2 separate regions of the Homo sapiens genome follow, and region 1 is linked to region 2. Evidence: fine-mapped expression QTL. A gene starts in region 2. The other region holds a variant in brackets. All regions are shown on one strand. Distances are from middle to middle.

The links.
Region 1: its variant is fine-mapped to the expression of HNRNPUL1 in whole blood (TOPMed, PIP 0.91).

The regions. Positions count from the first base shown.
Region 1 is chr19:41,305,374-41,309,753 of GRCh38, forward strand. HNRNPUL1 (heterogeneous nuclear ribonucleoprotein U like 1) reads left to right here. Exons shown (of 15, transcript NM_007040.6): 14 at 303-494; 15 at 1,076-2,414. The coding sequence ends at 1,192. It overlaps LOC105372401 (a long non-coding RNA gene), which reads right to left. Exons shown (of 2, transcript XR_935968.4): 2 at 2,166-4,380. Among named protein-coding and RNA genes, the nearest start is that of CCDC97, 2.6 kb to the right of the region's middle. RefSeq lists an enhancer at 3,392-3,571. The variant C/T (reference allele first, on the strand shown) is at 1,735.
Region 2 is chr19:41,262,085-41,266,464 of GRCh38, forward strand. HNRNPUL1 (heterogeneous nuclear ribonucleoprotein U like 1) reads left to right here and starts at 2,288. Exons shown (of 15, transcript NM_007040.6): 1 at 2,288-2,714. The coding sequence starts at 2,420. RefSeq lists enhancers at 194-243, 274-363, 720-1,259, 1,260-1,799, 1,800-2,338 and silencers at 2,344-2,583, 2,674-2,743, 2,764-2,813.

The DNA.
Region 1 (4,380 bases), 43 kb after region 2:
TGATTCTCATTTTATAAAAAAGAAAACTGAGATTTCAAGAAGTGCCGTGTACCTTGCTCCCTGGGGGTCTCAGAGCTGGGGTTAGAGTCCACATCACAGCCCTGGGGCTTGCCCTTCATCCTGCCCTACCATGGCATGGAGCTGGCTCTCCTCCTTCTCAGCCCACAAACAATGTCCACTAGGCAAGGGAAGGGCCCCTGTGGGCCAACCACTTAAAAAGGCCCTTTTTCCATCCCAGCATTTCACATCTGCAGATTTCCTCTATTTCACAGAGCTTTGGCTTTTTTCCCTCCACTTTCCAGCCGAGTTACAGCCAGCCACCCTACAACCAGGGAGGTTACAGCCAGGGCTACACAGCCCCACCGCCTCCACCTCCACCACCACCTGCCTACAACTATGGGAGCTACGGCGGTTACAACCCGGCCCCCTATACCCCACCGCCACCCCCCACTGCACAGACCTACCCTCAGCCCAGCTATAACCAGTATCAGCAGGTAGGTGCCAGACTGGGGGCCAACTGGATGGAGAGACTTCCATGGGCCCCTCCTGGGTGTGTATTCCCAGACTTAAGTCCCTGCTTATCCCTAAAAAGACAGCCTGCTGGCCTCGGCCTGGCGTTCATCTGGTGCAGCCATTCCATTTGGTCAACACTTCTGCACTGGTTGCTAGGTAATTGGTATCCTAGCCCCCTCCACAGTCTAGCAAGTGAAGGGGAAGGGCTGGCCTAAGTACCAGGGGCCTCAGAGTCCTCTTTCAGCACCATAGACAGGGGGCTCCAAATCCTGCTGCAGGTTGGTGCCCAGGCCCCCATACCTGTTACTAAATCTTTTGACTATGATATCTAGCTATACCCAAAAGGCACTGGGTTGACAAGCTGAGACCTGGGCTTCAGTCCCTAACTGCCTACCTGTGTGGTGTCAGGTCTTTCCAAGGTGCCTTGATTTCTCTGTCAGGGGACCTGTGTTCAACTGTTGTCACTGCAGCTGTCTCTGCCCTAGGTGAGGGTGGGGCTGGTGGGGAGGCTAAATGTGTGGTGGATGCAGGACAACTTGGTGTTCTTGGTTTCTTTCCCCAGTATGCCCAGCAGTGGAACCAGTACTATCAGAACCAGGGCCAGTGGCCGCCATACTACGGGAACTACGACTACGGGAGCTACTCCGGGAACACACAGGGTGGCACAAGTACACAGTAGCCAGTGTGACCCAGAGGCTCCCGGAGGCCCCTGCCGGCTTCCTCCACCAGCGCCTGCCTCGGCCCCTCCTCTGCCCCCGCCAGATCCCGTGGTGCTGGGGATGGGGTCATCCCAGGGCTGCCTCCCTCCAGCCCACTGCCTCCCCTCTGAGGGGCTTCCTTCCCCTCCATAGGGCCAGGCATTTTTTTCTGGATTCAAACAGGCAACAATGACCTTTTATTTTCTGTTTGTCCCCACCTCCCCAGCCTTCCACCTCCTGTTCTTCCTACCTTCTTCCTTTTTGACTAAATAATCCCCACCTCCCTTGATCATACAGTGAGGCTACAGTGACTGAGGGGAGAATCCCCTCCTGTTCACTCTCCCAACCCTGCTCCAGCCCCTCAGCTTCCCAGACCCTCATGCAGTTGGTTGTAAATTCTCCCAGGAGCTGTTTTACTGTCTACTTTTCAGGATTAAAAAAAAAATCAAAACTTAAAAAAAAAAAAGTTTAAAAAGCAAAATGGGGAGGGGGAGGAAGCAGTGACTTTTTTTTGGTAATTATG[C/T]GCTTTTTTTTAATTTTTAGAATTTGTCTTTTTACTGTGGGTGGGCTGTTGATATTTCATCAAGATAAGCATTTCTTTCCTGAGTTCAGGTGACTGAGGAAGAGCCACAAAACAAAACACAACAAAACCAAACCACAGAATCATCTTTAACCCAACTTTTTATACGATGCCCCAGTTCCCCATAACTTTGCACACAAGCTTCTGTGTTCAGTTGAATTGTAACTGCTTTTTGTATTTGGAGAGAGTGACTATTGAACTTGAAACCTTTTATTCCGGGCGTCTTGGTAGTTTCTGGTGGGATTCAGTGGGTGAGAGGGAAGAAGGGGAGGTTGGGGGGCTCCTTCCCTTCAGAACTTGAAGTTTCTCCCACTGCCTCCTCTCCAGTGGTCTCCCAGGTGCCAGACCCAAAAGCTTTTCCTACAGTGATACCCTTTATTTTTACTTCCCCTTGACTCATATGTTTTAACATGATTTTAACAAACTGCACTTATTAAGAAATGTGTTTGCCCTGTTTTGTTTGGTTTCGTTTTGTTTTCTTTGAATAAATGACATGGCACCTCCTAGCAGGAAGGAAGCAGGGTTGAAACCCTGAAGTGTTACTGCAGTTGGCCGTTAATTGGGGTGGGGGCCTCTTTAAAGGGAAATTATTTACTCATTCATTAAACAACTTAACTGAGGGATTCATGTGCCTGGCCCCGATTTTGGTGCTAAAAATGCACGCTTAAACAAGGGTCCCTGGTTTAAAATCCACTAGTTCATTTTTAAAGTGCTTCTCTTGTTCTCTACCTCTCACAGTCTAAAATCCCTCCAGGAGTTTTTGAGTAAAGGACATGGAACAGGCCTCTAGGTGGAGGGATGGGTGGGACTGATGGGGCAGAGACCAGGGCTGGTTTGTTTGGCATCATCACTGGGCATCCACAGACCACCTGCCTCAGGCCTGGCCTGTGTGCAGCACGGAGGACAGTTCCTGCCTGTTCTGTGTTTGGGGCTCATGGGGATTCCAGGAGCTTCATGTTTCAGCCAGTGTGTGTGAGCCACCTGCTGTGTTCTTCAGCTGTCCTGGACAGTGCTGGGGACATAGTATGGCCACGGCAGTCCTGGACCCCGTTCTCACAGAGCTCCCACTCCAGAGAGAACAAAGACCTGCCAGCACCAAGTGGTCAGCTGTGAGAGCCTGGGGTGGTGTGCAGGGAGGGCTTCCTGGAGGAGTGAGCCAGGGTAAAAGACTCCAGATTGCATCCCCATGGCCCATCTTCCCCTTCCTTAGCAACCTTATGTCTTCGTTCCCTCATACATGCTGTGTTCCTGGCTCCTTGTGAGAGACAATGCTGGGCCACAGGAGAAGCCAATTCAGCCCCAATCTTCCCTGGTGGGAGCTCAGAGCCTTGTGAAGGGGAGATGGGCAACAAAAACAAGGGAGGGAAACTGACTAGTCTCAGAATCTCGGGTAGGGCATCAGAACGTGAGAAGGAACCAAGGTTGGTGGCTAAAAGGGACCCTAGAATGCGCCAGAGAGGAGGTGGCAGGGCCTTTAGTCTGGAAAGTCCCCTTCCCTTCATGTCCATATGCTGGGCTACAGCGCCCTCTGCTGGCCTCTCCTGGTAATGCCTAGGAATCTGGGTTGGTAAATAGGGACCTCCTTGGCTTTCTTCCACAACTCCAGACCTCAAGGGAATGCAAATGGGGAAGCTCTTCCTCTGTTCTCAGCCAGTTTTTCTCACACGTCTCATCTCCAGTCCCTTGATGCCCACTCCCTTCAGAATAAAGGAGGTCAAGCCACTTACTATGGCTTATGAGGCCCTGCATGGCCTAGCACCTGGTAACATCGCTGGCGCCCTCTCTTTCTGCTCCCCCTTTGAATATCAAATCAGTGTTTATTTTGTTCTGAGGAGCCATAAGTCCTTTTTGGAACCCACAAATGATGCCATGAACCACTGCATTGGAGAATACAGAGGTACATGGAATTTTGCATAAAAATTCATGAGGTTCTCAAAACCTCCACAGCCCAATCATGGCTTTCAAGTTAGAGCTCCTTTCCTATGCCCTGACCGTAGTGAAGTGCTTGCAGCAACCAGAACCGTCCGTACGTGCCATCCTCCTCAAGACTCTTCCCTACCTTCCTCTTAACCCAGCTCCTACTCGTTCTTCAGGTCTTAGCTTGAGGGTACCCTCCCAGAAAGAAGGCTTCCTTGACCCTCCAGCCTGGGGTGGACAGCTCCCTCAGCCCTCTGGATCCATCAAAGCCCTGGCCACTGAGTGACATGTCTGTCTACTCTGCTGGTAACACCTAAATAGAGCCCCACCCATCCCATAGGGAAATAAGGACCAGAGTTGTCTTGTTTCACACCTGTAGATTTCCTCCAGGTCCTGGGAACACAAAATGGGAAGTTCTATCTCACTATCCATCTCATGCCAGCCAGAGACAGGGTATGATGACGGAAGTAAGCCAGGCTGGTGGCTCACGCGCGTAATCCCAGCATTTTGAGAGGCTGAAGCGGGAGGATTGCTTGAGGCCAGGAGTTGGGGACTAGCCTGGGCAACAAAGTGGGACCCCTGGCTCTACAAAAAAATTTTAAAAATTAGCCGGGCGCGGTTGTGCGCGCCTGTAGTCCCAAGTACTCCAAAGGCTGAGGCAGGAGGATCACT
Region 2 (4,380 bases):
ACTGAAACTCAGACGCATAGAGTAACACAGACACACAGAATTACACAGACACAAGCATATTTACAAACATGCTCAGGCAGATACCCGCCACGAATAGGAAGAGACACAGACCTAGAGTCAAGTGACACAAATACTCAAGAGACATGTAGAGTACAACAGGTACTCACAACCCCGAACGTTCAGACTGACATAGAAACACAGGCACAGAACACCTCCGATCATCACGGACCCACAAAGGGCCTCCAGCGAAGACCAGCCCACCGTGTCTGGCACGCACTCGCGAGCGGGCGTTCGCGGGTGTGGCCGGCAGCAAATGGAGAAACCCTTGGCAGCGCCCGGACGCCCTCCAGTGGCGGCTCCTGAGAACCGGGGACAGTTCAATCCGGGCCACAAACTTTTTTAGAACAAATCATTGTGGGAAGCTGGGAGGAGAGAGAGAGAGAGGAAGTCGGACGTGGGCGAGGGGCGGGGTGTCTGGACTGGAACCTCTGGGCCCACGTGAGTGTCTGTCCCGCTGCTGAGTGGGTGCTGTGTGTTTGGGTTGCTGTAGTGTTCGCTTGTAGTGCAACTATCCTGTGTTATCTTTATTATTCGATGCCGCCTGCCTCTGCGGACCGTAGTGGGCACATCTACACTGCAGCGGGGTGCCTTACCCAAAGCAGATCGGAATTGGGGCCGGGCGCGGTGGCTCACGCCTGTAATCCCAGCACTTTGGGAGGCCGAGGCGGGCGGATCACTTGAGGTCAGGAGTTCGAGACCAGCCTGGCCAACATGGTGAAACCCCGTCTCTACTAAAAATACAAAAATTAGTCGGGCATGGTGGCGGGGACCTGTAATCCCAGCTACTCGGAAGGCTGAGGCAGGAGAATCGCTTGAACACGGGAGGCGGAGGTTGCGGTGAGCTGAGATAGAGGCCCTGCACTCCAGCCAGGGTAACAAGAGCGAGACTCCGTCTCAAAAAAAAAAAAAAAAAAAAAAGAACAACAAAAAAAAGAACTGGATGCGTCTGATCTGACGCACGCCTGTTTGTTTACGACTGCGGGGTGTGCCTTTGTCTGAGTAGAGATAGTGTGTGGCTTTTGCGGGCTTAACGTGTGGCTCAGGAGGCAGTGGGAGTCTGCATCATGTATCCCGATTGCGTCTTACTCGAGTTTTGTTTTGAGTTAGAGGCGACAGGTGGTGCAGCGTTAGACACTGGGAAGCTCTGTGGCTTTTGTATTCCTGAGCGCGAAGGTTAATGACGGATCCGTGGGGTTGAGCTTGTCGGTACAGACGCCAGACAGCCCGATTTACGGGAACAGCCGATTAGAGGATTCGGGAGAGCGGTCGGTGAACTTCTGGATGTCTTTCGGGAGGGGAAGGCTCTATGGTCGCGTGCAGAGCGCCCGTTCCACGTCAGGTACCCGACCATAGAGCAAGGCGGCCGCGGACTACCCAAGGGAAGGGGAGGCCGTGTCCTTTACAACTTGCCTCCCGTTGTTAGTCTAGTTTCTATAGCCAAACCTTCGGGACTCTCTCAACTCAAAATTTTGCTTTTCCTAAAGGCAACTGGGTTCCTTCCAGATTACGAACTGTGTATCCACTTAATCTCTATTTCGTATACCTCCTCCTACAGCGAAATTTGTGAGGCAGTCCTCTGAAGCACGGCCAATCTGGTGAACTTTTCCTAAAATGAGCCATCGCTACCAGCTTTAGTGAGCTAAGACAATAACTGCGATTGGTGGGCAGATTGTTTTGAAACCGCCCTAACGGCAAGGGGCGGGCTCCTGGTGAATTCATCTCTTTCCGGTTTCTTAAAGGCAACAGGAAGGAGGGGTTTCTGCCGACCCTCCATTTGATTGGTTCTAGTGGTTTTACCCGCTCGGACTCCTCAAGGGGCGGGAGATGTACACCAATCGGAATGTGTGTTACAGAGACACTTAGTTTGATGAAAGGACTGCGCAGGAAAGGCCGTGGGACACTCATTCTGAGATCTTACCGTTGATTGGACCAAATTGTTACTCCCTTATTTTCATTGGACCTTACGGCAGCCGGCGCGCGAGAGTTACCCAATCAGCAAGCGCTCCGCCTCCTGCCTTTTCCCGCCCTCCGCTCCGGCCTCGGCTTCGACGTAGGCCAACGCTTCCTCCCCAGTAGCTCCTAGGCCTTCTCGTGGCCGTTGTTTTGAAAACGGCGCTCTGATTGGCTAGGTTTCCGGGCCCGCGCCCGTTGCCCCACGCACTGACCAATTGGCACTCATGTAACATCGGACGAGGCACGAGTGAGGGGGGAGGCGGTGGCGGCGGCCATTTTGAGCCGCTGCCGCCATTGGAGTGGGCCCCCCCCCTTTCCCCCTTCGCCTCCTGACAGGAAAGGTTTAAGGGGGACAGAGCCCTGGGAGGCCGGGCCGGGCTCGGGGGCCACCCCGGGGGCCCGGGCCATGGATGTGCGCCGTCTGAAGGTGAACGAACTTCGCGAGGAGCTGCAGCGCCGCGGCCTGGACACTCGAGGCCTCAAGGCCGAGCTTGCTGAGCGGCTGCAGGCGGCGTTGGAGGCCGAGGAGCCTGACGACGAGCGGGAGCTCGACGCCGACGACGAACCGGGGCGACCCGGGCACATCAACGAGGAGGTCGAGACCGAGGGGGGCTCCGAGCTGGAGGGGACCGCGCAGCCACCGCCGCCCGGGCTGCAGCCGCACGCGGAGCCCGGCGGCTACTCGGGGCCGGACGGACATTGTGAGAGTGCGCGGGGCGGGGGCCGGGGAGCCCGGAGCCTGGGCCGAGGAAAGGGCTGTGGGACGCGGGAGTCCAGCGCCTGAGGTCGGGGAGACGACCTGAGGATCGGGGGATCCCGCTACCCGCCGCCGAAAAGGATCTGGGGACCAGGGCCCCAGCACGACCGGAGGGTGGATCCTGACACTCAGTGCAGGGGGGACACTGGGGGAGGGGCCTCTGGGTTTCGGAGGTGAGGGACGGGGGTGGCGGGGAGGATTCCGTACCGTAGGGATCGGAGACCGGAAACTGCTTTCTGGAGCCGAAGAGAGTCGGAAGAACAAGAGGTTTTCCGTTTGGGTTGGGGAGGGTCTCGAAAATGGGGATCCTAGGGTACGGAGCTCCGTGGGCTTGGCGGTCGTGCTAGCCCAGCGTGTGGGCTGGGGGGTGGGGAGCCGTGTTTCCAGGGTGGGGAAGGAATGTCCAGGTGTGCGGGGCTGCGAGAGTTCTGAGGAAGGAGGATCCTGGAATATGCCGCTGGATGCGATCCTGGGCGTTCTCCTATTTGGGTACGGGGGTGGGTGGGAGAGGTGGAGGCGCTGGTGTCTGTGGCTGGGGAGGGTCCTAATGGACTCAGTGCTTTGGAGTTTGGCTAGTGAGCATTTAGGGGCTGCGGGAGATTGAACTAGGGGGCACCCCCATCTCTCTTCCGGGGCTGGAAGGCCACCCTTGAAGCAGGCACAGCCTGGACATTAGGTGCTGGGAGATCTGGGGACTTTCTGGTTGGCTTCTAGAAGAGGTATAGGGAGCCCTGGTGTCCAGAGGCTGGCGGGGGAGAGGATGCTTTCCTGGACAAAGGATCTGGGGGTCTAGAGCTAAGAAAACTGAGGGCAAATAACTCTTGAGGCTGCTGCTGACTGGTCTGGAGCTAACTGTGGGGTTTTTGGAGAACAGAGGGTAGCTGGGGGTGGGATGGGGGCAGATGAGTTGGTAACATTCCAAGTGGATGAAATATGTGGCGGGAGACAGAGGATCCTGTGTCCAGCACAGGAGTACGTATCTGGCTTAGCGAATATGGGGAGGGGGGAGGCCGTAGGGAGCAAAGAGAAAGAAACCTGTTGACTTCACTGGAGGCCTCAGAGTGGAGTGTGGGGAATGTTTCTGGACCTGAGCGTCTCCAGGAGAAATCTCGACGGTTCCCAGAAGCAGTTATTTGTGTACCCAGGGAGTGGGGGCCCTCGGGGAGCAGCACGGAACTCTTCATCAGCCAGGAGCTGTGACTCTGGGAATGGGTTCGGGTAGACCTGCGGTTGTCTGAGGAGAGGAAAACCTGATATGGGACGGCGTGAATCTTCAGTTAGAAAAAAAGCAGCTTTCGGGCCGAGTGCAGTGGCTCACGCCTGTTATTCCAGCACTTTGGGAGGCCGAGGCGGGCGGATCACGAGGTCAGGAGTTCAAGACCAGTCTGGCCAGCATAGTGAAACCCTGTCTCTACTAAAAATACAAATATTAACCGGATCTGGTGGTGTGCGCCTGTAGTCCCAGCTACTCGGGAGGCTGAGGCAGGAGAATCGCTTGAACTTGGGAGGGGGAGGTTGCAGTCAGCCGAGATTACGCCATTGCACTCCAGCCTGGGCAACAAAAGTGAAACTCCGTCTCAAAAAAGAAAAAAGCAGCTTTCTTTCTCTTT